Linked DNA regions of Homo sapiens. The protein of the gene in region 4 purifies or fractionates together with the protein of the main gene of each other region. This does not show direct contact. Each region holds a gene or a part of one and is shown on either strand. Other genes may lie near its edges.

What was found.
Region 1: the proteins of SLC8B1 (region 4) and MAP1B purify together in Homo sapiens (affinity purification with mass spectrometry; one large-scale study listed by BioGRID and IntAct). This does not show direct contact.
Region 2: the proteins of SLC8B1 (region 4) and UBAP2L purify together in Homo sapiens (affinity purification with mass spectrometry; one large-scale study listed by BioGRID and IntAct). This does not show direct contact.
Region 3: the proteins of SLC8B1 (region 4) and EIF4H purify together in Homo sapiens (affinity purification with mass spectrometry; one large-scale study listed by BioGRID and IntAct). This does not show direct contact.
Region 5: the proteins of SLC8B1 (region 4) and TPR purify together in Homo sapiens (affinity purification with mass spectrometry; one large-scale study listed by BioGRID and IntAct). This does not show direct contact.
Region 6: the proteins of SLC8B1 (region 4) and MAP4 purify together in Homo sapiens (affinity purification with mass spectrometry; one large-scale study listed by BioGRID and IntAct). This does not show direct contact.
Region 7: the proteins of SLC8B1 (region 4) and CSTF3 purify together in Homo sapiens (affinity purification with mass spectrometry; one large-scale study listed by BioGRID and IntAct). This does not show direct contact.

What each region holds. Positions count from the first base shown.
Region 1 is NC_000005.10:72,194,068-72,198,133, forward strand, and holds part of MAP1B (microtubule-associated protein 1B), read left to right. Parts: coding exon 1-4,066. UniProt on the Homo sapiens protein: Facilitates tyrosination of alpha-tubulin in neuronal microtubules. Phosphorylated MAP1B is required for proper microtubule dynamics and plays a role in the cytoskeletal changes that accompany neuronal differentiation and neurite extension.
Region 2 is NC_000001.11:154,223,465-154,227,530, reverse strand, and holds part of UBAP2L (ubiquitin-associated protein 2-like), read right to left. Parts: intron 2,448-4,066; 5' UTR 2,408-2,447; coding exon 2,318-2,407; intron 250-2,317; coding exon 172-249; intron 1-171. UniProt on the Homo sapiens protein: Recruits the ubiquitination machinery to RNA polymerase II for polyubiquitination, removal and degradation, when the transcription-coupled nucleotide excision repair (TC-NER) machinery fails to resolve DNA damage.
Region 3 is NC_000007.14:74,177,165-74,181,230, reverse strand, and holds part of EIF4H (eukaryotic translation initiation factor 4H), read right to left. Parts: intron 1-4,066. UniProt on the Homo sapiens protein: Stimulates the RNA helicase activity of EIF4A in the translation initiation complex. Binds weakly mRNA.
Region 4 is NC_000012.12:113,307,143-113,311,208, forward strand, and holds part of SLC8B1 (mitochondrial sodium/calcium exchanger protein isoform 1 precursor), read right to left. Parts: intron 3,214-4,066; coding exon 3,092-3,213; intron 703-3,091; coding exon 549-702; intron 1-548. UniProt on the Homo sapiens protein: Mitochondrial sodium/calcium antiporter that mediates sodium-dependent calcium efflux from mitochondrion, by mediating the exchange of 3 sodium ions per 1 calcium ion.
Region 5 is NC_000001.11:186,364,951-186,369,016, forward strand, and holds part of TPR (nucleoprotein TPR), read right to left. Parts: intron 3,033-4,066; coding exon 2,936-3,032; intron 1-2,935.
Region 6 is NC_000003.12:48,009,587-48,013,652, forward strand, and holds part of MAP4 (microtubule-associated protein 4), read right to left. Parts: intron 3,932-4,066; exon of another isoform or gene 3,889-3,931; intron 1-3,888. UniProt on the Homo sapiens protein: Non-neuronal microtubule-associated protein. Promotes microtubule assembly.
Region 7 is NC_000011.10:33,095,402-33,099,467, forward strand, and holds part of CSTF3 (cleavage stimulation factor subunit 3), read right to left. Parts: intron 3,750-4,066; coding exon 3,633-3,749; intron 3,364-3,632; coding exon 3,289-3,363; intron 1,578-3,288; coding exon 1,434-1,577; intron 1,008-1,433; coding exon 905-1,007; intron 1-904. UniProt on the Homo sapiens protein: One of the multiple factors required for polyadenylation and 3'-end cleavage of mammalian pre-mRNAs.

The DNA.
Region 1 (4,066 bases), on a different chromosome or scaffold from region 4:
AAGTCCCATCTCCCTTTGACATCTTGGAACCTCCCACATCGGGTGGATTTCTGAAGCTCTCCAAGCCCTGCTGTTATATTTTTCCAGGAGGGAGGGGCGATTCTGCCTTGTTTGCAGTGAATGGTTTCAATATGCTCATCAATGGCGGATCAGAGAGAAAATCCTGCTTCTGGAAGCTCATCCGACACTTAGACCGAGTGGACTCCATCCTGCTCACCCACATTGGGGATGACAATTTGCCTGGAATAAACAGCATGTTACAGCGGAAAATTGCAGAGCTCGAGGAAGAACAGTCCCAGGGCTCCACCACAAATAGTGACTGGATGAAAAACCTCATCTCCCCTGACTTAGGAGTTGTATTTCTCAATGTACCTGAAAATCTCAAAAATCCAGAGCCAAACATCAAGATGAAGAGAAGCATAGAAGAAGCCTGCTTCACTCTCCAGTACCTAAACAAATTGTCCATGAAACCAGAACCTCTGTTTAGAAGTGTAGGCAATACTATTGATCCTGTCATTCTTTTCCAAAAAATGGGAGTAGGTAAACTTGAGATGTATGTGCTTAATCCAGTCAAGAGCAGCAAGGAAATGCAGTATTTTATGCAGCAGTGGACTGGTACCAACAAAGACAAGGCTGAATTCATTCTGCCTAATGGTCAAGAAGTAGATCTCCCGATTTCCTACTTAACTTCAGTCTCATCTTTGATTGTGTGGCATCCAGCAAACCCTGCGGAGAAAATCATCCGAGTCCTGTTTCCTGGGAACAGCACCCAGTACAACATCCTGGAAGGGTTGGAAAAGCTCAAACATCTAGACTTTCTGAAGCAGCCACTGGCCACCCAAAAGGATCTCACTGGCCAGGTGCCCACTCCTGTGGTGAAACAAACAAAACTGAAACAGAGGGCTGATAGCCGAGAAAGTCTGAAGCCAGCCGCAAAACCACTTCCTAGCAAATCCGTGCGCAAGGAGTCAAAAGAAGAAACCCCTGAGGTCACAAAAGTGAATCACGTGGAAAAGCCACCCAAAGTTGAAAGCAAAGAAAAGGTAATGGTGAAAAAAGACAAGCCAATAAAAACAGAGACCAAACCTTCAGTGACTGAAAAGGAGGTTCCCAGCAAAGAAGAGCCATCTCCAGTGAAAGCCGAGGTGGCTGAGAAGCAAGCCACAGATGTCAAACCCAAAGCTGCCAAGGAGAAGACGGTGAAAAAGGAAACAAAGGTAAAGCCTGAAGACAAGAAAGAGGAGAAAGAAAAGCCAAAGAAAGAAGTGGCTAAAAAGGAGGACAAAACACCTATCAAGAAGGAGGAAAAACCAAAAAAGGAAGAGGTGAAAAAAGAAGTCAAAAAAGAGATCAAGAAAGAAGAGAAAAAAGAACCCAAGAAAGAGGTTAAGAAAGAAACACCGCCAAAGGAAGTCAAGAAGGAAGTTAAGAAGGAAGAGAAGAAGGAAGTGAAAAAGGAAGAAAAGGAACCCAAAAAAGAAATTAAGAAGCTCCCTAAAGACGCAAAGAAATCATCTACTCCTCTGTCTGAAGCAAAAAAACCAGCTGCTTTAAAACCAAAAGTACCCAAGAAGGAAGAGTCTGTCAAGAAAGATTCTGTTGCTGCCGGAAAGCCAAAGGAGAAGGGGAAAATAAAAGTCATTAAGAAGGAAGGCAAGGCCGCAGAGGCTGTCGCTGCAGCTGTCGGCACTGGAGCCACCACAGCAGCTGTCATGGCGGCAGCTGGAATAGCAGCCATTGGCCCTGCCAAAGAACTCGAAGCTGAGAGGTCCCTTATGTCATCTCCTGAGGATCTAACCAAGGACTTTGAAGAGTTAAAGGCTGAAGAGGTCGATGTAACAAAGGACATCAAGCCTCAGCTGGAGCTAATCGAAGACGAAGAGAAACTGAAGGAAACTGAGCCAGTCGAAGCCTACGTCATCCAGAAGGAGAGAGAAGTCACCAAAGGTCCTGCCGAGTCCCCTGATGAGGGAATCACTACCACTGAAGGGGAGGGCGAATGTGAACAGACACCTGAGGAGCTGGAGCCCGTCGAGAAGCAGGGAGTAGACGACATTGAAAAATTTGAAGATGAAGGAGCCGGTTTTGAAGAATCTTCAGAGACTGGAGACTATGAAGAGAAGGCAGAAACTGAGGAGGCTGAGGAGCCAGAAGAGGATGGGGAGGAACACGTATGTGTGAGCGCCTCCAAGCACAGCCCCACTGAGGATGAGGAAAGTGCCAAGGCGGAGGCTGATGCATACATCAGGGAGAAGAGGGAGTCTGTGGCCAGTGGGGATGACCGAGCCGAAGAAGACATGGATGAGGCCATTGAGAAAGGAGAGGCTGAACAATCTGAAGAGGAGGCTGATGAGGAGGACAAAGCTGAAGATGCCAGAGAGGAGGAATATGAGCCGGAAAAAATGGAAGCTGAAGACTATGTGATGGCTGTGGTCGACAAGGCTGCAGAGGCTGGTGGTGCCGAGGAGCAGTATGGATTCCTCACCACACCAACCAAGCAACTAGGAGCCCAGTCTCCTGGCCGAGAACCTGCATCTTCAATTCATGATGAGACTTTACCTGGAGGCTCAGAGAGCGAGGCCACCGCTTCTGATGAGGAGAATCGAGAAGACCAGCCTGAGGAATTCACTGCCACCTCTGGCTACACTCAGTCTACTATTGAGATATCCAGTGAGCCCACCCCCATGGATGAGATGTCTACCCCTCGAGACGTGATGAGTGATGAGACCAACAATGAAGAGACGGAGTCCCCTTCTCAGGAATTCGTAAATATCACCAAATATGAATCTTCATTGTATTCTCAGGAATACTCTAAACCTGCTGATGTTACACCGCTCAACGGATTTTCTGAAGGATCAAAAACAGATGCCACTGATGGCAAGGATTACAATGCTTCAGCCTCTACCATATCACCACCCTCTTCCATGGAGGAAGACAAATTCAGCAGATCTGCTTTACGTGATGCTTACTGCTCTGAAGTGAAAGCCAGCACCACTTTGGACATCAAAGATAGCATCTCAGCTGTTTCAAGTGAAAAGGTCAGCCCATCGAAGAGCCCGTCCCTGAGTCCATCTCCACCATCACCCTTAGAAAAGACCCCCCTGGGTGAACGTAGTGTGAACTTCTCTCTGACGCCCAATGAGATTAAAGTCTCTGCAGAGGCAGAAGTAGCCCCGGTGTCTCCTGAGGTGACCCAAGAAGTAGTTGAAGAACATTGTGCTAGTCCTGAGGACAAGACTCTGGAAGTGGTGTCACCATCTCAGTCCGTGACTGGCAGTGCTGGTCACACACCTTACTATCAATCTCCTACTGACGAGAAATCCAGTCATCTCCCTACAGAAGTCATTGAAAAACCACCAGCAGTTCCAGTGAGTTTTGAATTCAGTGATGCCAAAGATGAGAATGAAAGGGCTTCAGTAAGCCCCATGGATGAGCCCGTGCCTGACTCAGAGTCTCCTATTGAAAAAGTTTTGTCTCCTTTACGCAGCCCGCCCCTCATTGGATCCGAGTCTGCTTATGAAAGTTTTCTAAGTGCTGATGACAAGGCTTCTGGCAGAGGTGCCGAAAGTCCTTTTGAAGAAAAGAGTGGAAAACAAGGCTCTCCAGACCAAGTAAGTCCAGTTTCTGAAATGACTTCTACTAGTCTTTACCAAGACAAACAGGAAGGGAAAAGCACAGACTTTGCACCAATAAAAGAAGACTTTGGCCAAGAAAAGAAAACTGATGATGTTGAAGCCATGAGTTCTCAACCAGCACTGGCTCTGGATGAAAGGAAATTAGGAGATGTTTCTCCCACACAAATAGATGTCAGTCAGTTTGGATCTTTTAAAGAAGACACTAAGATGTCCATTTCTGAAGGTACTGTCTCAGACAAGTCAGCTACTCCTGTTGATGAGGGCGTAGCAGAAGACACGTACTCTCATATGGAGGGTGTGGCCTCAGTGTCCACAGCCTCAGTGGCTACGAGCTCATTTCCAGAGCCAACAACAGATGATGTGTCTCCATCTCTGCATGCTGAGGTTGGCTCCCCACATTCCACAGAAGTAGATGACTCCCTTTCAGTGTC
Region 2 (4,066 bases), on a different chromosome or scaffold from region 4:
AAAATTAGAGAATGAAAGCACTTATTTATTGGCCTGACCTATTATATTTCAGGTCAAAATTCTTTCAATACCTATAGTAGAAAGTATCCTGGCATCCATCTACAGTATTTGATTATGCCTTAATACTGGTATCTTTTCTCATAGTGTACAGTAAATTAGTGATACACTCACTTGTTTCACCTTCTCCTCAAAGTCAGCATCATTATGGTCCGAAATCATCTGTGCAAGTCTAATTTGTTCTGCAGTGGCCTAGGAATTGAGATGAGATCAAGAAAGCATAATCATGAGGCAACAGTTTAGAGAACAGGAACCTATTTCGTCAGCCTCCACTGCCCCAATTTTCTTTTCCTTGTAACAAATGAGCAAGTAATAAAGCACCATTTAGGACGCTTAATGGGGGATCAGGGATAGGTGCGGGTGGTGGCTCACGCCTGTAATTCCACACTTTGGGAGCCCAAGGCAGACAGATCACCTGATGTGAGTAGTTTGAGACCAGCCTGGCCAACATGGCAAAACCCCGTCTCTACTAAAAATACAAAAATTAGCCGGGTGTGGTGGTGCACACCTGTAGGTCCAGCTACTCGGGAGGCTGAGGCAGGAGAATTGCTTGAATCTGGGAGGAGGAGGTTGCAGTGAACTGAGATAGTGGCACTGCACTCCAGCCTAAGTGATAGAGCAAGACTCCACCTCAAAAAAAAAGATGCTTAAATCAGTAAAATGACAAAAAATTGAGTGAAACTGTTACAGAAAGAGTAAGGAACTCATTCACCAATCTTCACAGTTAAAGGGACTTCCGTCTTAGAATCACAGAACCGCTCTGAAACATCTGCCCCTTAATTCATATTAAGTCACAAAGCCATGTGTAAACTCTATTCTTATTTCTGTAATAACCAACGCCATCCTCTTATTCCTAGAGCTTAGAATACAAGTCTGACAATAGACTCAACACATCTTCTATATATCCAGTGTATGTTCAGATACTAGGAATTTTACTGCCCCAACTAAGTATTATAATTCTACTAGAAATCCACTTGAAAACACAGATGAAAGAAAAATGCGTAAGGGGGATGTCCTAATCTTACATATTCGATTTATCTGACCATAATCAAATATAAGTAATTCATTCACATTACATACCAACTAACATCAACCTGGTATGAGAAACAGAATATATCTACATCAAAGTTAATATCCAAGAGGTTAATTTACTCTTTAAAACTTAAAATTGAGCAATGCTCTAAGGTGTTTCATTTAATTTTGAAGAAACATAGTGAAGTTGCCAGCTCCTCATGGGAAAGGAATAATCAGGTAAGGTCTCAATGGAACCAGAGAGGAAAATAAAAGACAAGTTGGGGAAAAGAGGAGCAAAGGATAAAATCTGGAATGGAAAAGGCTTGCTAGAGAGGTATCAAGGTGGGGCAGGGCACAGCGGCTCATGCCTATAATCCCAGTACTCTGGGAGGCCGAGGCAGGTGGATCACCTGAGGGCAGGAGTTCGAGACCAGCCTGACCAACACGGTGAAACCCTGTCTCTACTAAAAATACAAAAATTAGCTGGGCATGGTAGCACACTCCTGTAATCCCAGCTACTCAGAAAGCTGAGGCAGGAGAATTGCTTGAACCTGGAAGGCAGAGGTTGCAGTGAGCCGAAGTGGCGCCATTGCACTCAAGCCTGGGCAACAGAGCGAGACTCCGTCTCAAAAACAAAAGAGAGAGATATCAAGGTGGAAGGTCTAAGAAATAGAAAGGTATTGCTAAAATGGCCCAGGTAAGAGAAGGGAAATGCTATCTTAAGAGTTATAGAGCCGGGCAGTGACTCACACCTATAATCCCATGAGTTCAAGACCAGCCTGGGCAATGCAGCAAGACTACCATCTCTACAAGAATTTTAAAATTAGCCTGGCATGGTAGTGTGCACTGGTAGTCCCAGCTACTCAGGAGGCTGAGGCGGGAGGATCACTTAAGCCCCAGAGGTTGAGGCTACAAATGAATGGTGACTGTGCCACTGCACTTTGACCTAGGCAAAGGGAGCTCCTATCTTAAAACAAAACAAAAAAAAAAAAGATAAAAAGCACAGGACCCATAATAAAGTGCTAAGCCTCATAATACAGTATTAAACAACAAAAAAGTAAGCATCTTGCCTTACAGCATGTCATGAACAGTTATCAGGACCTAAGTAAAAAAAGAGCCAAGGACTAGAAAACAAAAATAAGGAACCTAAACCAACAGTTCAAAGCACAGAATGATGCTGTACTGCATGGAAACCAGTATCAGCAGGCAACGCTATCCATGAATCCGTATGCCTTGGATTATTTACCTGTGGCCGCTGCTTGTGCTGTGTCTGGTTTTGGTTTTGAGGTTGTTCCCAGTTTCCCCGGGCTCGGTTAGTGCCCACCGATGTCATCATTTACAGTATATACAAATAACAGTATTTACAAGGTAGAATACTGAAAGATTTAAAAGAAAATTAGGTATTAAATGTGGGCAAAATATGTTTTTAACTCTCTCATCAGCACCTTCACCACCAAACACTTTCACTTCTTCAAAGGAACAAATCAATAAGATTCATTTATTCTTACAACATAATTAGCTTGATAAATTCCTTAAGGAGCTATGGCTGTTAATCCATTTTTATGTAACAAGAAATGTATAAAGCATGTGTAAGTGATGGATTTTTTTAAGAAGTTACAGCAGTTTGGTTACTAGTCCCCCATAAGCAGACTTTACATTTAACTAATAATCAAAAGCCTTTTACATAGATGCAAGTATCTGAAGTACCTTTGACAGAAGGAAAGATAATCAGTAAAGTCTGGAAACAAAAACCTTCCAGGAAGGAGATTAGTCTACACTCCAGAGAAATAATTTTAAATACTGTATTCAATCACCTAAGAAAACAGCCTTACCTGCCTTACAACCTTTTTTATGTAAGCTGCATGTGACCTCCATTGCTTGGGAAAGGACAAGTTCAAGTCTAGACTCTTCTTTGTCCCTCAAGTTTCATCTCTCTCAGTATGCTATGGGTTTGTTTTGTGTTTGTGGGGGTTTTTTGTTTTTTTAAACCACAGCCTTCAACAGGGTACGTATTAGCCCCAATGACTTTGTCCAGAATCTCTGTTCTCTGGAAAATAATTCCAACACACTGCTTTTACAGGTGCTTCTCTTGGTCTCCTAGTCCACATTTTCAAGAAACCAAAATGGCAATTACCCTCCACCACTCACCTTAATATACAGGGAATCTCAAATTTGTCTCAAACCAAAAGCATCTAGCACAAAGTTTTATTTGGAAGAAAGTGCTTCTAAGAAATCATTTTAAACTTGAGACCTTAATGCTGGCAAGATGACTTAGTTGAGTCTTTAAAGAGACACAGAACACACAGGGCCTTCCCCAAACCAGAATATAGTTTTTGTTACAAGACTTCTAACAAGGAAGGATTCTACTGAATTCAAGTTCCTTTAGTTCATACTTTGTTTTATAATACAATCTCAGCTGCTGCATTTAGTAAAAAAGAAAACATTAATCATATGATAGAGTGTTCAAAATAATAGGTTACTCTGCATTTATTCCCTTCCAAAGAGGGTAAGTTTATACTTTTCTGCTCTATATTTAATTTTTCTTGTTAATGAAACCTTATACAACGTAATTCTAGACTGCCCAGAGATATTACTGGATTTGAGTGGGAGGAAGGACTTCTAAAGAAATATGCAAGGATTAACTATTAGGGAAGTGAATTTCATCTGACTTTCTTGGATGTCACAGAGAAAGCTGACTTTTTCTGTGCATAAATTCTTCACCAAGTTGCGTCAATAGGTTGCATAGGTCTTTGTATCAAGAAAGATTTTTTTAAGGTAGCTTCTCAGGTAATTTTTAACCCATTACCTCTTCCCCCTACACATATTGGCACACAAAAGCCCATAAGTATTTCAAGCTAGAAAGGATTATTTGCTACACAGTAGCCCATTTTCCCAGGTTAGCATTATAGTCGTTTCAACTTTACAAAAAAAAAAAATGTTTAACCAAGTACCCCGAATCCAAATCAACAAGACTACATATACACATATATACGTA
Region 3 (4,066 bases), on a different chromosome or scaffold from region 4:
AAGTAGGGAAGATAGATGTAACAGAAATAGCCAAAATGTTTATGAGGTTAAAACTGGGAAAGGAATGGAGTTGTTTAGTGGGTATAGAGTTTCTGTTTGGATTATGAAAAGGTTCTGGAACTAGATAGTGGCAATGGTTACACAACACTATGAAGGTACTCCATGCCACTAAATTGTACACTTAAAAATGGTTGAGGCTGGGCGTGGTGGCTCATGCTTGCAATCCCAGCACTTTAGGAGGTCAAGGCAGGAGTATCCCTTGAGGCTAGTTCAAGACCAGCTTAGGCAACAAAGGGAGACCCTGTCTCTATTAAAAAAACAATTATTTAGCTCAAGCAGCAGTTCTTTACATTTGTGCAGTCTCTGAAGAAGGCCAAGATGTAATCCTTTGGTCCTATTCTGGCCTGGAGGGCCACACCTTTCTTCCACTCAGCAGTCCCAGAGACTTAAGAGCTGCTGTATCACTGCTGCTGAGGCTTCTTTCGAAGGTCCTCACTGAAGCTGCTCAGCCCTTCCTCCTAAGATGAAGTTTCAGAGCCTGGCCATCCCCACTATCACCTTCTTCTTCATAGGCTCCAGTGTGCTGATGCCTTAAAATATGGTTCCCAGAATGGTTCACAATATTCCACATTTATAAAGCAAAGACCTATACTGATCTCACAACAGGTCTTTGTGTTAATACAAACGAAGGCAGGGGCATCAAACTACATTACTCATGCTTTCCCACCATGCACTTGAAGTATTTAAAATAGGAAGAAAAATCACAGCTTCAATTAGGAATATCCTTGGTAAAGCAGTAAAAATGAATCGTGACCCACTTTTTAGTACCCTATGTTATGAAACACGCAAAGCACTTCTGCTGCATACACAAGCATGATGGCTGCTGCAGGAAAAGCACTTGAGCTACAAGCTGAACTAGCTGTTCTTTCTATAGAACAAACTATGGTTAATTCAGACATGGGTACTAAGTTTTTTAAAAATGAAGTTAAGTCTGTTCCTTGAAGTAAAAGAACAGTATTTGGGTTTTTTGTTTTGAGACAGGGTCTTGCTCTGTTGCCCAGATTTGAGTGCTGTGGTGCAATCACTGCTCACTGCAGCCTCAATCTCCAGGACTCAAGTGATCCTCTAGCCTCAGCCTCCCAAGTAGGTGGGACTATAGGCATATACCACCACACCAGCTAATTTTATTTTTGAAAAGACCAGGTCTGGACATATTGTCCAGACTGGGCTAGAGTGATCCTCCTGCCATGGCCTCCCAAAGTGTTGGGATTACAGACATGAGCCACAGCACCTGGCCAAAATAACAGTATTTGTTGCCAATGGTAAAATTTAAGCTTTCAAGCAAAAAAGAGTTTCGGAAAACCTGTATCCATCAACATAAGCCTGACAGTCTTTCAATACTCAGAGACTTTTCTAACAGCTATGGTGAATGTGACTTTGATACTGTATAACAAAATGTACCAACATCTGGAACATCTGCATGGCTCTGCCTGGCTCAGTGAACAGGTCCTTTCCAAATCACCAACACCTTACAAATGTATGCACTGGTAAAGGATCCAGTCGGAGTACAAGATAAAGTGACTTTTTTTTTTTTTTTTTGATACAGAGTCTCACCCTGTCGCCCAGGCGGGAGTGCAGTGGCGCAATCTGGGCTCACTGCAAACTCCACCTCCCAGGTTCAAGTGATTCTATGGCTTCAGCCTCCCAAGTAGCTGGGACTACAGGGGCCCACCACCATGCCCAGCTAGTTTTTGTGTTTTTAGTAGAGATGGGGCTTTGCCATGTTAGCCAGGCTGGTCTCAGACTACTGACCTCAGGTAATCCGCCCGCCTTGGCCTCCCAAAGTCCTGGGGTTACAGGAGTGAGCCACCGCGCCCAGCCAAATGATGAACTCTAATGTAAAAGTATGAAGAGTTTATTGATAAGGTTTTAGGTTTCACATTGCAACTAACCTTCATAGAAACTACTGCTTATTGAGTTTTGGTATAGAATCAAATATGAATATCCAGAATTATTTGATTACTCCTCCCATTTCCAACTATTTATCTGTGCAAGGATTGAGCTGCTCCATAAAAGTCAACCAAAGCAACACATTCCAAGAGTGGAGACAGATGCAGGTATGAGAATCCAGCTGTGTTCTATTAAGCCAGACATTTAGAAGGCTCCAAAAATGTGAGTACACAGAAGGCTCCAAAAATGTGAGTATACATGAAAGACAGGAGAAGAATGTGCAGAACAAAGGGAGGTGACGGCCCCCCTAGCCCTGAACTGGAAGGCCATGCTTAACCAGAGACTCATCAACCGTGGAGCAGCCACATACTTGAGCTCCTTCAGAAGGTCCTGATCAAGACGGAAAATCACATAAATCATGACGTGGGGAAACTTCGAAGAACATTCGACTTACACAAAAGAAGTCTTAGACGTACATACAGCTGCCATTAGGTTCTATGAAAATGATGCAATCACACTCATTTCATGCCCGGGTGTGCAGGTCTAATCAGCATGATGTAAAAGCAACCAGGCGACAAATACTCTCCTGAACCTTCCAGGGGAAGCTGGAAGCCAGAGTGTGATCCTGGAAAGACATTCAGAGTCTGCTTTGTACGTTCTAAGCTTCCAGGGAGACTCCTTAAAATTGTGAAGTCTTTCCAGAACACTAAGCTTAATTTTTCTTTTTTTTTTTTTGGAGACAGTCTCTCTCTGTCGCCCAGGCTGGAGGAGTGCAGTGGCATGATCTCAGCTCAATGCAACCTCCGCCTCCCTGGTTCAAGCAATTCTCCTGCCTCAGCCTCCCAAGTAGCTAGGATTACAGGTATGTGCCGCCACACCCGTTTTGTATTTTTAGTAGACATGGGGTTTTGCCACGTTGGTCAGGGTGGTCTCAAACTTCTGGCCACAAGTGATCCGCCTGCTTCGGCCTTCCAAAGTGCTGGGATAACAGGCATGAACCACTGCACCCAGCCACAAAGCTTAATTTCTAATAGAAACATAAATTGAAGGCTGGGTACTGTGGCTCACACAATGAGCCTTGGGAGGCTGAGGCAGGAAGATCCCTTGAGCCCAGGGGTTTGAGACTAGCCTGGGCAACATAGAGACACTCTGTCTCTACAAAAAAATACAAAAATTAGCTGGGCATGGTGGCGCACCCTGTAATCCCAGCTACTTGGGAGGCTGAGGTGGGAGGATGGCTTGAGCCTGGGAAGTCGAGGCTGCACTGAGCTATGATCCTGCCACTGCACTCCAGCCTGGGTGACAGAAGGAGAGCCTATTTCATAAATAAATACATGTTTCTAACTCATATGTGGGGAAAACGAGGCTCAGAGAGGTGAAGAAACTTACTTCAGATCACACAACTAACACATGGCTGAACTGATGAAACTCTGGTCTGCCTTATTCCAAAGCCAGGGCTTTTACATGAACCGTCATGCAGAGACCTCTTAGCAAATCCAAATATTTCTGGTAACACTTTTCATAGAGGATAATGGTTTGGAACTAAGCAATGGAACACTTGGAGTGAAGAAGGATAACAAACCTAAACGACTTGACATTTGACATGTAAACAGCATTTTAAAATAAGCTTTTCAATAGCTTTACAGGCCCTAGCATCAGTGAAAACTAGCTGTAGTTTTTATACACTGCTTTCCTTCCTATTACATACAAATCTTAAAATATGCTCAGAGACAGGAAGTAGAATGGTGGTTGCCAGGGACCTGGGGGAAGGAGGGCAATAGGGAATTACTATTCAAAGGGGACAGGGTTTTAGTTTTACAAGCTGTAAGAGTTAAGGAGCTGGATAGTGGTGATGGTTATACATTACGAATACACTCAATATCCCTGAAATGTATACTGAAAAATGGGTAAAGTGGCACATTTTATGTTATGTATATTTTACCACCATAAAAATTTTGGATAAAAATATGCTCAGAAATTTAGACAGACATGCTAAGTTTAAAGATTCAAAGGTTAGAATTCTAAACTCCTAGGCTGGGCGTGGTAGCTCATGCCTGTAATCCCAACACTTTGGGAGGCTGAGGCGGGAGGATCACTTGAGTCCAAGAGTTCAAGA
Region 4 (4,066 bases):
AAAAAAAAACTACGGCTACCAATTTTTCAAAGTCTCATCTGCTGGTAACATGCACAGCACCTCCACATGAATAAGAAGAAGGTGCTCAAAAAGGTAAGTGGAAGGAGGGGCTAGATTTCAGCTCCCTCATCCTCTTGTCTGGATGCTCTGGAGCAGTGCATAACCTGGCCAACCACACCTGGCTGCTACAGCTAGGGAAGGGTGTATGTATGTAAGTGTGAATGCCTGCATGTCACACACCCGTGTACACATCAAGCACGGCCGGCTGCAATGGGCTCCATGTCCTGCCTGAACTCTGGGAGCCACCGACCATCCCCGCATCAGAGGGTGGGGAAGAGGCAGGGGCCTCTATAGAGTTTCTTGGTCCAACTGCAGTCAGGGCCATCTCACCCCAATGCTGGCCACTCCACAGTGACAGGGGACACTGCACAGGTGCAGAGGGCAGACACCCTGGACACTCCTGCCCAGATGCGACTCTGGCTGGGGGAGGAAAGAGCTAAGATGTGGCCGCACTCACCCCCACTCAACCCCACCCAGCCCTGAGTCACCTCCAATGCTGTTCCCCCAGGCCAGCAGCGTGAGCCCCAGCACAGTGTTGCTCAGCCGGAAGACCACACCCAGGGACCGCAAGATGTTCACCACCTCTGTGGCGGCCGCGTTGATCCACAGGGCGCTGGTCAGAAAGCCCAGGAAAGCAAAGAGCTGCGGAGGGAATGGTTTGCTGTGGGACCAAGGCCAGCCCCAACAGGAACACAGCCTCAGTTCCTCACCTGTGAAACGGGATGATAACAGTATCTACCTCATGAGCTTATTATGAGTATAAAACACGTTACTATATGCATTGGTGCCTGTGCAAAGTTAGTGCTCAATAAAACGTGAGTTCAATATTATTTTCTTTTTTCCTTAATAAACTCCCTTTCAGGCCGGGCACGGTGGCTCACCGCCTGTAATCGCAGCACTTTGGGAGGCCGAGGCGGGCAGATCACCTGAGGTCAGGAGTTCGAGACCAACTTGGCCAACATGGTGAAACCTTGTCTCTACTAAAAATACAAAAATTAGTCAGGCTGGTGTCACACACCTGTAATCCCAGCTACTCGAGAGGCTGAGGTGGGAGAATCGCTTGAACCCGGGAGGCAGAAGTTGCAGTGAGCCTAGATCATGCCAGTGTACTCTAGCCTGGGCGACTGAGTGAGACTCTGTCTCGAAAAAAGAAAAAAAATAAAAACAAAAAAACCTCCCTTTCATATACTAAAAAAAAATATTATTTTGTCTGGAAAGGGTTCCTTATCACTTTCATCAGATTTCCAGTCTATGAACCAAATACCACCCATCATCCCAATAAGTATCCCTGTACTCATTAGCGGTCACTCCCTAGCCCCACCCCACCAGCCCAACTCGACCACTACTCTGCTCTCTGTCTCTCTGAATGTGCCTCGTGGACATTTCACATCAATGGAATGCCACAGTGTGTGATCCTCTGCTACAGTCTTCTCTCACTCAGCATCATGTTTTCAAGGGTGATCCATGTTGTGGCACACGTCGGTACTTGAAAAAACAGTGAAAGACAATTTTCCCTAAGTAGTAAAAGGCAACTTCCCTAAATGATCCATTTGCTGAAAATTCAACACCCTTCGGTTGGTACATTCATTGAGTTTCCAAAAGTAAAAACTAAAATTTTAAAAAATCATTAAGCACTAAACAATGAAAATTTTAAGTAAACTTTTTTTTTAGGACGATGTCTCACTCTGTTGCCCAGGCTGGAATGCAGTGGCGCGATCTCAGCACACTGCAACCTCTGCCTCCTGGGTTCAAGCGATTCTCCTGCCTCAGCCACCCAAGGAGCTGGGATTACAGGTGCCCGCCACCATGCCTGGCTAATTTTTGTATTTTTTAGTAGAGACAGGGTTTCGACATGTTGGCCAGACTGGTCTCAAACTCCTGACCTCAGGTGATCCACCCGTCTCGGCCTCTCAAAGTGTTGGGATTACAGGCGTGAGCCACCACGCCCAGCCAAAATGAAAATATTAAGTAAACTTTTTTTTTTTTTTGAAACGGAGTCTCTGTCACCCAGGCTGAAGTGCCATGATGCGATCTCATCTCACTGCAACCTCTGCCTCCTGGGTTCAAGCAATTCTCCAGCCTCAGCCTCCCGAGTAGCTGAGATTACAGGTGCCCGCCACCACGCCCAGCTAATTTAAGTAAACTTTTAAGGAAAAAGTCTCTGGACAAACCCCTAAATATTCTTTAGAGTGCCTAGACTAGGGAAAATGGAAAAAGACACCCACAAAGGCCATCCCATTCTATCCCTGGAGTGTCTTTAGAAACCCAAGGCTGGGCACAGTGCCTCATGCCTGGAATCCTGGCACTTTGGGAAGCCGAGGCAGGAGGATTGCTTGAGGCCAGGAGTTTGAGAGTAGTCTGGGCAACATAGTGAGACCTCATCTTTACAAAAAACATACAAAAATTAGCTGGGCGTGGTGGCTTGCGCCTGTAGTCCCATCTACTTGGGGGGCTGAGGTGGGAGGATGGCTTCAGCCCAGGAGGTCGAGGCTGCAGTGAGCTATGACTGTACCACTGCACTCTAGCCTGGACAGCAGAGGGAGACCCTGTCTCAAAAAAAAGGAAATCACATATTGTAGGATTCTATTTATATAAAATGTCCATGATAGGCAAACCCATAGAGACGCGGAGTAGAGTCGTGGTTGCCAGGGGCTATGTGGGGGGTGGGGAAATGGGGAGTGACTTATGGGCATGAGGTCTCTTTTTGGGGTGATGAAATTCTCTAAAATTGATTGTGATGATTCCACAACTCTGTAACTATAATAAAAAACATTAAATTGTATACTTTAAATGGGTAAATTGTATGGTATGTGAATTACATCTCAACAAAATTAAGCTATTACCAAAAAAAAAAAGAAAAAAACCCTGTATAGATACAAACACTCTCAAAAGCAGCTTTAAAGTTCGGTTACCTGTCTTTGTGTGACTCCTGATCAAACTGGTCAAAGTGCCTCAGAGATGCAGACAGGACATCTGTGTGGGAGACATCAGCATCCCTCCCCCCCCATCTCGGAGAACCCGGGCTTCTTACCCAGTGAAGCCTGGGGGGCTGGCTGTCAGATGTGGCAAAAAAGGTCACTGAAGCCAAGGCTGTGCCTGCGATCACCACCACGACCCAGACGGGAACGAGGCCGCCTATCTCATAGACACCATCTGCAAAGGGAGAGAAAGGGAGCTGATACCTTCCCAGCACCTCAACACCCACTTACAATGGACTATTTGGATGTCAGGTAGACACTTCCTATCTGCCCAGCCCTGTCCTAGACACTTCATGGGGGCAGAAAAATTTAAAATGCAGCCCCTGCCCTCAAGTTAGTCACATTTGAAAGAAAAAGAGAGACACACAAAAAAGACTCTCTCCAGCCTGTTGCTGTGGAACTAGGATAGGAATGGCTATAACCACTAACACCACCACCCTCTTCCACCTTCATGGCAGACATCACTAATCAAGCACAATACTTCCATCCAACTGCATTTCCAGGCAGCTCCCTCCAGCCAGGCATTACCAGTAGATGGCATCGCTCCATGAGATGAACCTGACAGTCAAACCCAGCCTCTTCACTGAGAGGTACCCAAATAAGTCCACTCTCCATTAACAAATATGAAGGTTCCAGAGGCTTCATATTAAACACCAAAGGGAGACACCCTAAGGTGAGAACACTCTAGAATTCTCCACACATCACCCTTTTCACCACTAGGAGTTGGTACTGGTCTTAAAGACGATGAATAGTTCAAATGTTCATATACCTGCATCAAGACCCTTCTTTTGTTCTTTTTTTAGTCTAGCTCATGGCTCCCAAATGACAGGGGGCTTAAGAATTATGTGAGGAGGCCGGGTGTGGTGACTCATGCCTATAATGCCGGCACTTTGGGAGGCCACAGCGTGCAGATCGCTTGAGCCCAGGAGTTCGAAACCAGCCTGGGCAACATGGTGCAACCCCATCTCTACAAAAAATACAAAAATTAGGCCGGGCACGGTGGCTCACACCTGTAATCCCAGCACTTG
Region 5 (4,066 bases), on a different chromosome or scaffold from region 4:
AGGGCCCAAAGGAAAAAGATAAACACCAGCTGCCTGTCTTCTGGTTACACAAGAAGAAGACCTGGACAATGACAGACCCCCTTCTCTGAATTGGTTCCACTCATGCTTTGTCCCTAAAGTCAGAAAGTACCTTGCTAGTAAAGGGGCTGCCCTTTTTTTTTTTTGGAGACAGTCTCGCTCTATCCCCCTAGCTGGAGTGTAGTGGCATTATCTTGGCTCACTGCAACCTCTGCCTCCCTGGTTCATGTGATTCTCATGACTCAGCCTCCTGAGTAGCTGGGATTACAGGCGCCTACCACCACGCCCAGCTAATTTTTGTATTTTTAGTAGAGATGGGGTTCTGCCATGTTGACCAGGCTAGTCTCGAACTCCTGACCTCAGGTGATCTACCTGCCTCGGCCTCCCAAAGTGCTGGGATTATAGGCATGAGCCACCGTACCTGGCCAAGGGGCTGCCTTTAAAGTTCTTTTGACTTTAGACACTGTCCCTGGCCACCCAGAACCCAGGAGTTCAACATGGAAGGTGTCAAAGCAGTCTACTTGCTCCCAAACATGTTTCTAATTCAGCCTTTAGATCAGGAGTCATAAGGACCTTTACGGCTCAATAGAGATGATACTTTGTGAAAAGAAAATGTCAACACTGTGGAAGAGAACCCCAACAGAGAAAATATCATGAAAGTTTTAAAGGATAACACACTGAAGAGGCCATCCCTTCTTTTTCATTACAGAAAAAGTTATGAAAGCCATCAAGGCTGAAATAATAAATTCCTGTTGGAGGAAACTCTCCAGATGTTGTGCATGATGTCACAAAATTTGTAACAGAGCCAATCAAAGAAATCATGAAAGAGATTGTGGATATGGCAAAAAAAGTGGGATGAAGGGTTTCAAGATACGGACCTTGGAGAAATCCAAGAGCTAATAGCCACCATATCAGATAAATTAACAGAAGATGACTGGATGGAGATGAGTGCTTCCAAACCAGTGCCAGACGATGTGGAAAAAGAATGTAGAACTAGCAGTGTCAGAAAACATATTGGTAACAGACTATCTGGTGGAAGGGTTCTGATTACCCAAGACTGCTTTTGATTTCTTTTATGACATGGATCCTTCTCTTACATGGGCACTGAAACTATAGCAAACGGTGGAAGGAAGATTGGTAATGTATAGAAACATTTTTAGAGAAATGAAAAAGCAAGTCAGACAGAAATTAGGCTGTATTTCGTAAAGTTACATTGAGTGTGCCTCCCTCTTCTGCCTCCCCTTCTACCTCTGCAACCTGACCCAGCAAGACCAACCCCTTTTCTTCAGCCTAGGTAATGTAAAGACAAGGAGGATGAAGATGGTTGTGATGATCCACTTCCATTTAATGTACAGTAAACGTATTTTCTCTTCCTTATGATTTTCTTAACATTTTTTTCTCTAGCTTACTTTATTGAAGGAGCACAGTATATAATACAGATCACAGACAAAACGTATGACAATCTACTGTGTATGTTATTGGTAGGGCTTCTAGTTAACAGCAGTAGTTAAGTTTTTGGGGAGTCAAAAGTTACACATAAATTTTCAACTGTGGGGGGAATCAGCAACCCTAACCACTGTGTTGTTTAAGGGTCAACTGTAGTTCTCAACTCTCTTATTTTAACTTGTTTCTGCCATAGTTAATTACAAATTCAATTTCTACAAATATATGACAAAAAATTGAAATTTGTGTATCCAAACTTGTGAATTATCCAAATTTATTTTAAATACAGTGTGTTAAGCTAAATATTCAACGTTAACCTTAATTTTCCTGATATATATCCAAAGACCTATTAAAATTTTATAAATAATCATTAAGCTAAAAAGCACTAATATAAAAACCTACTCAATATGGAATACACATTTTTAAAAAACTATCTATTAAATATCTAGATTTTATGAATTCGTTTAGTTGTAACTACCACTTGTTGATCAACACACTCAAGTATTTTGAAGGAACTCTTGTGAGACTGGGAAAGTATACTTAACTAATGGAATATTATTGTATAATGATATAAATATCTGAAAATCCTTTCTTTTATAGAAATAAAAAAATTTCAAAAACCATTAAAAAAAAAAGAACCCAAAACACCTTTTTTTTTTTTTTTTTTTTTTTTGATACGGAGTCTAGCTCTGTCGCCCAGGCTGGAGTGCAGTGACGCAATCTTGGCTCACTACAACCTCCGGCTCCTGGGTTTAAGCAATTCTCTGCCTCAGCCTACAAAGTAGCTGGGATTACAGGTGCGTGCCACCATGACTGGCTAATTTCTGTTATTTTTAGTAGAGACGGGGTTTCACCATCTTGGCCAGGCTGCTCTTGGACTCCTGACCTCATGATCCACCCACCTCAGCCTCCCAAAGTGCTGGGATTACAGGCGTCAGCCACCGTGCCTGGGCACCAAAGGAAACTTCTTACCATTAACTGCTTCAGAGTCAAGTTCACCTGACTACATCAGCTGTATTATATACTACAGTCTATGTTTATGTATTTTATGTCTCTGCCTCCTTCAGTCTGTTTATAAATATAGGCTGAGTATATGTTCTTATATTGAATGCTTATTATATAGCAAGGATGTCCATATGAAATAAAGAACAGTAGTTCAGCCTTTGCAAATATTTAAAGTGCTTCCAATTTGACATTATGTACAGCATTGTAGTGAAAATCTTTGCATGTAAAATCTGGTCCAAATTACTACTTCTTTGAGATGTTCTTCACTTGTGCACTTTCTAGACACTTCTTTAAACACTTGACAATGATTTAAAGATAAATGAGTAGGAGAAATAATAGGATATGACAACTCTATACTCAACCATAACAAAAAAATATCAGCAACAGAAATGGGCTGAGCACTAACTCCTAGCACTAACAGAAGAAAAATAAAGGAATGGAGCTAAAAGCTACAAGCACTTCTTCATACCTGTTAAGTATTCAAGTTCTTGAGATAGTCTCTCATTGGTTCTAATTAAGTCTCTTTTCTCAGCTTCTAATTCTTCCTTTGTTCTTGTAAATTGGCTCTGTCATATAAAGAAGTAATAAGTAAGAAAATCAAGTAGAGCAATACAGGAAAGCGAACATAGAATTGTCACTTTAGTTAACATCAGCTGTAGTGTAAATGACTGGCTTTCTCTTATAACTTACACATCAAAGTTAAAAAATACCCGTAATTCCAATGTTTCTATTTAAATTTTGGATTTTTAAAACATTTTTACTAGGCTTATGAAAATTTTTCTCATATCTCTTTTAATCACATGGAAATGTCCTAATAACTTAGAATATCACTGTATTTACACCTTAGTTCAAATTATTTTTCAAGAAAGATTCCTAAAAATTGAATTACTTAAAACTTTTAATATATTTTGTCAGCCAGGTGCAGTGGCTCATGCCTGTAATCACAGCACTTTGGGAAATCAAGCTGGGCCGATCATTTGAGTCTAGGAGTTCAAGACCAGCTTGGGCAACACAGCGAAACCCAGTCTCTACAAGTAGAAAAAAACAGCCAGACATGGTGGCACATGCCTGCGGTCCCACCTACTCAGGAAGCTGAGGTGGGATGATCATTTGAGCCCGGGAGGCAGAGGTTGCAGTGAGCCAAGACTGCATCACTGCACTCTAGCCTGAGTGACAGAGTGAGACCCTGTCTCAAAAACAAAAAACTTGTCAAACTGCTTCCCAGCAAAACAATGGCAATCTACATGTTTTTGAGTTAGAAATATCTATCTCAAGCTACCTATGTCAGAACTGTAGGTTGCCTTTTAATATTCTTGTTTCCTGTGTAGAAGCTTTTTAGTTTGATGTAGTTCCGTTTATTTCTTTTTGCAGCTTGAACTACTGATGTGATCCAAACAATCATTACCAAGGCCAATGTCAAGAACCTTTCCCCTATGTTCACTTCTCTGAGTTTTATGGCTTCAGGTCTTACATTTAGATCTTTCATCCATCTTGGCTTGATTTCGGTATATGATGTAAGCAACACAAACATCCAACATTCATTTCTTCAAATGTGGAAATCCAGTCTTCTCAACACCATTAATGAGGAGACGATCACAAC
Region 6 (4,066 bases), on a different chromosome or scaffold from region 4:
CACAATTACAACGCCAACTAGGTGACAATACTTTGCAGAACTGTGGGAAAGTCCTCCAGAAGGCCGTGTATCCTCTGAATCAGCGTCCAATATAAGGTACTGTTTCTCCCATAGCCAGGATTCACAGGTCCAGGAATCGAGGGGTGGAACTGGAAGTGGCACCACTCACCATCACCCCTAGTGATCCACTAGCAAAATTTTTGCTTCCTCTCCTGCAACATTATGTTCTGCTGGCCTAGAGGTCTTAATTCCAGAGGGAAGAATGCTGCCACCAGGAGACACAACAATGATTCCATTAAACTGGAAGTTAAGATTGTCACCTGGACACTTTGGGCTCCTCCTCCCTTTAAGTCAACAGGCTCAGAGGGGGAGTTACAGTGTTGGCTAAGGTGACTGACCCAGACTATCAAGATGAAATCAGTCTACAACTTCACAACGGAAGTAAGGAAGAGTATGCATGGAATACATGAGACCCATTAGGGCATCTCTTCGTATTACCATGCCCTGTGATTACTGTCAATGCAAAACCACAACAGCCAAATCCAGGCAGGACTACAAATGATCCGGACCATTCAGGAATGAAGGTTTGGATCACTCCACCAGGAAAAAAACCCATGACCTGCTGAGGTATTTGGGGAAGGCAAAGTTAATACAGAATGGGTAGAAGAAGGTAGTCATCAATACCAGCTATGACCACGTGACCAGCTGCAGAAATGAGGACTGTAACTGCCATGAGTATTTCCTCCTTCATTTGTTAAAAACATGTTTGTGTATGTATACACATGTACTAATATCTTCACTTTATATTTCCTTTTCCTTTATCATGTGACATAAGATTTATTGATTTCATAACAGCATTTAAGTATTATTAACTTTATGTAATAGTATTTGGGTTGGGGATTGGTGTGTTTCTGGTTGTATGAAGGATAGTTTTATTACATTAGGTGTAATTATGACCTTATTATTGTCTTTATTTTAAGATTACATACGATCTCAGATGTATATGGGTTCAAGTTGACAAGGAGTGGACTTGTAATGTTAATACTGTCAACTTGATTGGACTGAAGGATGCAATATTGATCCTGGGTGTATCTGTGAGGGTGTTGCCAAAGGAGATTAACATTTGAGTCAGTGGGCTGGGGAAGGCAGACCCACCCTTAACTGGGTGGGCACCATCTAATCAGCCACCAGCGAATATAGAGCAGGAAGAAAAACATGAAGAGATGGGCCTAGCCTCCCAGCCTATATCTTTCTCCCGTGCTGGATGCTTCCTGCCCTCGAACATCGGACTCCAAGTTCTTCATTTTGGGGACTCGGATTGGCTCTCCTTGCTTCTCAGCTTGCAGACAGCCTACTGTGGGACCTTGTGATCACGTAAATCAATACTTAATAAACTCTCCTTTGGAGATATATCCTATTAGTTCTGTCCCTCTAAGAGAATCCTGACTAAAACAAGTAGTGTGGGGCTCGTGACAAAAACTGATAGCTTTGCTGCCAAAGGGGCTCCTGTGGCATGACAGAGCTGTTGTCCACAGCAAATGCCATCTCACACTACTGGAATTATAAATTCCACTATTTGAATAACCACTGCCGAATTCAGGATTTAGCAGCTTTTCTGAAGGAACCATAAATAGGAATTCAATGGTTCCTATAGTAGGAACTGGACTTGGTAATCCCAGCCTGTAATCTCCCAGCACTTTGGGAGGCCAAGGCGGGTGGATCACTTGAAGCCAGGAGATTGAGACCAGCCTGGCCAACACAGTAAAACCCTATCTCTACTAAAAATACAAAAACAGAATAACTAGCTGGGCACTGATTTTTATTATTTAGATGGTATGCACCTGTAATCCCAGCTACTCAGGAGGCTGAGGCAGGAAAATTGCTTGAACCCAGGAGGTGGAGGCTGCAGTGAGCCAAGATCACGCCACTGCACTCCAGCCTACGTAACAGAGCAAGACTCCGTCTCAAAAAAAAAAAAAAAAGTTCCTATAGTAGTAGTGGCACACCTGTGACCCATTTACAACAGACGAATGTGGGTGGGAAGCCCTATTCTATGCTCGTCCAGCCTACTTTACATATAAAGTATTATTGTAACTCCAGATCATGACAGGGAAAATGCTGAGAAATGAGTTCATTAAAGAGCTTTTAAAAGCCTAACAGATTATAATGTCAAAGGGTTCCATGAAAAGCAACTATTCAGTTGCTTTTACTATTCGGTTATGCCATTTCCCTATTCTATCTCTGACAACTATTATTAGTAGTTATCCTTTGGGAGCTGTTATGAACCAAAAACTAAAAAGGACGTCTGTAACTAGTTTTGATAGAGGCAAGAGGCAAACAAATGTCTAGGCAGACAGGGGCGGGTCCTCAGTGAAACCCGAACTTTAATCCGGAAACTGTCCTGGGTAAATCCTGAGATCGGATTAAGAACCTGCCTTCCCGTTTGGCATGATTGATCCCCATCCTTCACCTATTTAACCTGTACCTACCCTTTCCTAATTGGTTTTCTACACTGTCCTGCCCACCTTGGAGTGGTGTCTTCGCTTTGACCTTTTTTGCATACTCACAAACCAATGACCACACACTCCCATTCTGAACCAATAAAGAGCCCCAGGCTCAGCCATATTACGGAACTTTCCTGTCTTCAGGTAGTAGAACCACCTACCATGTTCTCTCTTTTTGCTAAGAGCTTTCCTTTCGATTAATAGATTCTACTCCACTCACTCTTTGATGTCCACGTGCCTAATTCTTCCGCTCCTGAGATAAGAACCTGGACCTAGTTGAGCTAAGGAGCAAAAATCCTGCATCAGTTTCATGGTCAAAGAGAACTTAAAAGGACATCTGTGCCATCCTTAACAACATACCATAAAAATCCAAAATTTAATTTTCCCCAGAAATACATAATGACATAAGATGCAATCTACTCAAATCTTTTCCTCATTTAAGGCACAGGGTAAAAATACAGTCAAAAACACCAATACATTTTAAATATCATTTATCAGAATGCAGATTATCAAAGGGCAGCTTTTATCCATTGTAATCTTTCCCCTATCCAACCCTCAGCACCCCCACCCCGCCCCCAGCCACACACTCTCAGATGACTTCCTGGGCTGCATGTGGTTCATGGAATATGAACAGTAGCTGAAATTCAGCCTAAGAGGGTAAAACTGATAGAAAATTATACAATTGGAAAGTGGGAAGGTCATGAAGCTATGAGCACATCTAGCTAGCCACTTAGCATCTGTATTTCATCAACAGTTAAGCTATTCTTTACTTGTCACCACATAAATAGAATATGATTTTAAAATACACACACACACCCCCTTATGGAAAATGATCCTAGAAAGGTAATGCTAGTGTCATCTTTCAAGTTAAAGTACTGTTGTTTTTTTTTTCCCAGAAATCCCCAGTTTTCAATAAATTAAAGCGATTATCCAATTTTATAGTTATTTTATTCTGAAACATGTATAAGTACAATACACTCTTTAAATGCTCTATAGATGTTAAACTGGTTCAAGTATTCCAAAATTAATTTTAATAAATTCATGTATGAATTTCATCTCACACAGAATCACTTGAAGTTACTTACTATTCGGTTATGCCTTAAATGCTTAGTTACATATTTTATGGATAAAAGGATATGACACTATTATTTTCAAATCTGGATGTTCAGGAGGATCAAAAAATGAACCCTTGTGAATGAGAAGCATTTACTCTAAAAAAAAAACCTCTCACTGACCAATTGACCATTTATACTATTCCTCTTCTATCCATACAGATAATAAAGTTAACTTTAAATAGATTTGTGAGTAAGAGTCAAGAGAATTTGAAAGCTGGGTACAGAAGTCTGTATGCTTTACTGAAGCACCAGTTTAATCTGACACTCACTGTGGCCTTGAATGAGTCACCTTTCAGGGCTGAGTTCTCTAATCTGTAAAATGAGAGTGTTATGTTAAATGTTTACTGAGGTTGATTATTCTATCAGCTACTTGTAATTCAGCTGCATCATTTCAGTTAGCTATAAATAAACCCCCTAAGACCCTCAGTGTGAATATGAACAACTATC
Region 7 (4,066 bases), on a different chromosome or scaffold from region 4:
TTACATATTGTGCACTGTTGTTAACTAGACTAAATGATATACATATATGAATTATCTAGCACAGTGCCTGGTAGGAACTCAATAAAGGATGGCCAGTGTTATTCGTACAACAGAATAGGGAAATAAATACTAAAAACCGGCCGGGCGCGGTGGCTCACGCCTGTAATCCCAGCACTTTGGGAGGCCGAGGCGGGCGGATCACGAGGTCAGGAGATCGAGACCATCCTGGCTAACACGGTGAAACCCTGTCTCTACTAAAAATACAAAAAATTAGCCGGGCGAGGTGGCGGGCGCCTGTAGTCCCAGCTACTCCGGAGGCTGAGGCAGGAGAATGGCGTGAACCCCAGGGGGCGGAGCCTGCAGTGAGCCGAGATTGCGCCACTGCACTCCAGCCTGGGCGACAGCGAGACTCTGTCTCAAATAAATAAATAAATAAATAAATAAATAAATAAATACTAAAAACCAAAATGTTTCTTTTTGAATCTTTTCCCCAGTATCCTCAAAGTGTTTTACTTTACTATTTGGGCATCTTTTGAGTTTGAGTTTTGGTGGCTAGAGGGTTTTTTGTTTGTTTGTTTTCCTTCCAGGAAACAGGAGATGATCTGCCCAGAGTCATCAGAGATGAATATAAACAACTCTGTGTCTCCTGACTCTGACTCTGAAGCTTTATCCCACTACTGATGGTACTTTACTGAATAAAGACAGTTCTGCAGAGTCAAAAAACATCTACCATTGCTCAGTAAATATATTCATGGTTGATATACCACAAGTATTTCTTGAGTGCCTAACAAGTGCCTGTCTGCTATGTCAAAATTATAATACATTCAAGAAGGAAGAAATCTAGCAACATAATTCCACATGGTTTAATATTAAGTAATCATTATAGATTCTAGAATCAACCTACCATTGAGGTGAGAAAGATAGTCAATATAGGCCAGGACATACTCTGGAATGTCTCCATATTTTTTTAGCCCCAGCTCAAAAATCTTAAAGGCAACAGATTTGTCCTACAAGTAAAGAAAGTAAAGTACAGATTTCCATGAAATGTCAGATAAAAAACACTTGAAAGAATATTAAAATTATACCTACATATGACAAAATATGTAAGAATTAAAACAAATTAAAATCATGTTAAGTAAAAATTGCTGAGCTAGAAACTATTCAAAGGAGTTTAGTGATTAGAAATCACGAAATAGTGATTAATATAGTGATTAATAAAGCACAAATTAGAAATATAGTGATTAATGAAGCATAAATTAGCAAGTAGTTGGGGATTTGGATGATGCTCCATAAAATTTTACACAGATACACTTAGACTGCCTTTACAAAATGGAGCAATAAAAGCTTAATGACAGAAGCTAAAATCACCTTTCTTTTACGAACCTCAGATGAAGGAAGTTGTTTTATCTTTACACTTGTATTTCAGTATTTACCTTACTACAGTAATATTCCATGAGTGCTGCAGTAACATAGACATGGTGGCGGGTTCTGGTATCTTCTCTTGCTTTTTTAAATATCATTCTTCCAGATTTGATGCCTTCTGCTCTCCGTGCAAATTTCATATATTGGATATATACCTATGCAAAAGAAAGTATTTGTGTTCTATAAATTAGACAGTATGTTTCCTGCATAAGAAAGCAATCCTCAATACCCAATAAATTAGAAAGTAGGAATTTAGATAATATTCTATTTAAATCCACAAACTAATTTTTTTCTGGTATTAGAGATGCATGCAAATTAATTTATTTTTTTATTGAGACATAATTCACATAGCACAAAATTCACCCTTTACAATTCAGTGGTTTTAAATATATTCACAAGGTTGTGCAATCATCACCATTATCTAATTCTAGAATATGTAAATTAAAGTTTAAGAGTGAAAAGTGTGACACTACTAGAACATACTCCATTAATGAATGTCAATATCTAAAAAACTCAAGGGTTGGTTTAATACAAGCACGTCTTACAATACATGTTTTTTTTTTTGAGACGGAGTCTCGCTCTGTTGCCCAGGCTGGAGTGCAGTGGTGCGATCTTGGCTCACTGCAACCTCTGTCTCCTGGGGTCAAGCCATTCTCCTGCCTCAGGCTCCCAAGTAGCTGGGACTACAGGCACACGCCACCACACCCGGCTAATTTTTGTTTTTTAGTAGAGATGGGGTTTCACCATTTTAGCCAGGCTGGTCTCAATCTCCTGACCTCGTGATCTGCCTGCCTCGACCTCCCAAAGTGCTGGGATTACAGGTGTGAGCTACCGCGCCCAGCCTGCAATACATGTTTAACTTCACATTTTCTTGGTTTCTTTTTAAAAGCCCACTACTCTATTTTCCGAACAACATATAATAGAACTTCATGGATAAACTATGAGCCATTTTATACCTAGCACCTACAGAGTGTCCAGTACATCATGAGTATGCAGTTTTGTTTAGTGAACAAATGACTAATTAGTAGGGTCCTGGTTTGCCCAGTATTGATAATGTCTAGCTATATTACCCAGTTTTGATGGATGGATGGATGGACTATGAGTTCCTCAAGAAAAGGAATTTCATCTAGTTTGTCATTAATGTTGCTGGAGTCTAGCACAATGCATAGACTCTAGCAATATATTTGCCAGATATGTTTGTGGAATGAATTATAAGATGATGAATAAATGTAGGAATTATAGCAGTGGAATCCCAATATAAATCATTAACAAGAAAAAGTAGTGTAGCTATAATTGACTTGAGGCAGAGGTTCTAGAGACACACCCACAAGCCTGTCCCCTTCCTCTCCCAATGGGAGAGCATCACTGCACTTTTGCACTTGGGGCTTTGAAAACCACTATGATAGAGCAGGATTTAGCATAAAGTGAGTTTCAGTCTAATTTCTTCCCAGGATGTCGGTTTCTCCCGCCTCATTTAAAAAGAAATATCTATTAAGCAACAATTCTGTGGCATAAAGTGACTTCAAACCATGATCACAAAGAAAGTGTTAGAGAAAGTGCCTCTGTATCTATTTTATACTGCTGCATTAAAAAGAAAAAATTCTAGCAGAAAACAGATCAGTAATTGTCAGAGGTAAGGGCAGAGGGAAGGGTTATATCTACAAAGGGGTCACATGGGGGAATTTTTGGAGGATGGTGGAGGTGTTTTCTATCTTAATTGTGGTGGGGATCCCATACTCAATGTTATTTGTCAAGATTAATAGAACTATACAACAAAAACAGTGAATTTTATTGTATATAAATTTAAATTATTTTTTGTTAGATAAGACTGTAAAGGTGGAAAAAAAGATTTGTAAAGTTACTCACCAAGGTAGGGTCAATATCCTCAATTGCCAGAAGTCTGTTATATATACTGTGAACCTTTTCATACTTCATGCGACTCTAAGGTGGTACAGAAGAAGTGAGTATCAACATATGGTCATAAATAAGCAGGATTTGAGCTCCAAGGAATCCAAAGGCTATAACCTCCCACCCCCAATGGCATCTCCATTGAGCATAAATATAGTATAAGCTGACAACTAATAACTGTTCATTTGGCATCATCTCTGTCTACCAAAAGCAATATGCCTGGCAAACAAGCAGCCAGAAAAAAAGTTCAGTCCTGCACTAAAAAATTGAATTATAAGAAGGCTCTAAACATTTTTACTTACCTCTTCATAATCTGCATATGCAAAATAAAGAAGCATATTCTTCTTCAATAAAGTGCTTATGGCTCTTTCATATATATTAGCAGCTTCATCACTAAATAATTTGGCATTATTCATATCCTGGTAGAAAAAAAAGAAAGCTCATCTTCAATAATTTTAATATAGTTGTGAGAGAATAAAATTAATAAAGTTACATCTACTTTATTTTATTTATGTGTCTAAGAAAGCATACATGTATGTACACACATATATATGTATCCACACACACACATACATAAACACATATGCATTTCTGGATTCTAAAAAAATTCCAAAAACTCCTTTCATTATTTTAACTTACAAAATAACCATGCAAGTACTCTAAATGATTCATTACTTTGATACGTTAAAAAACTGCCAGTTTATTTTAATTCTAAGGAGGTCTAATTATATGAGTG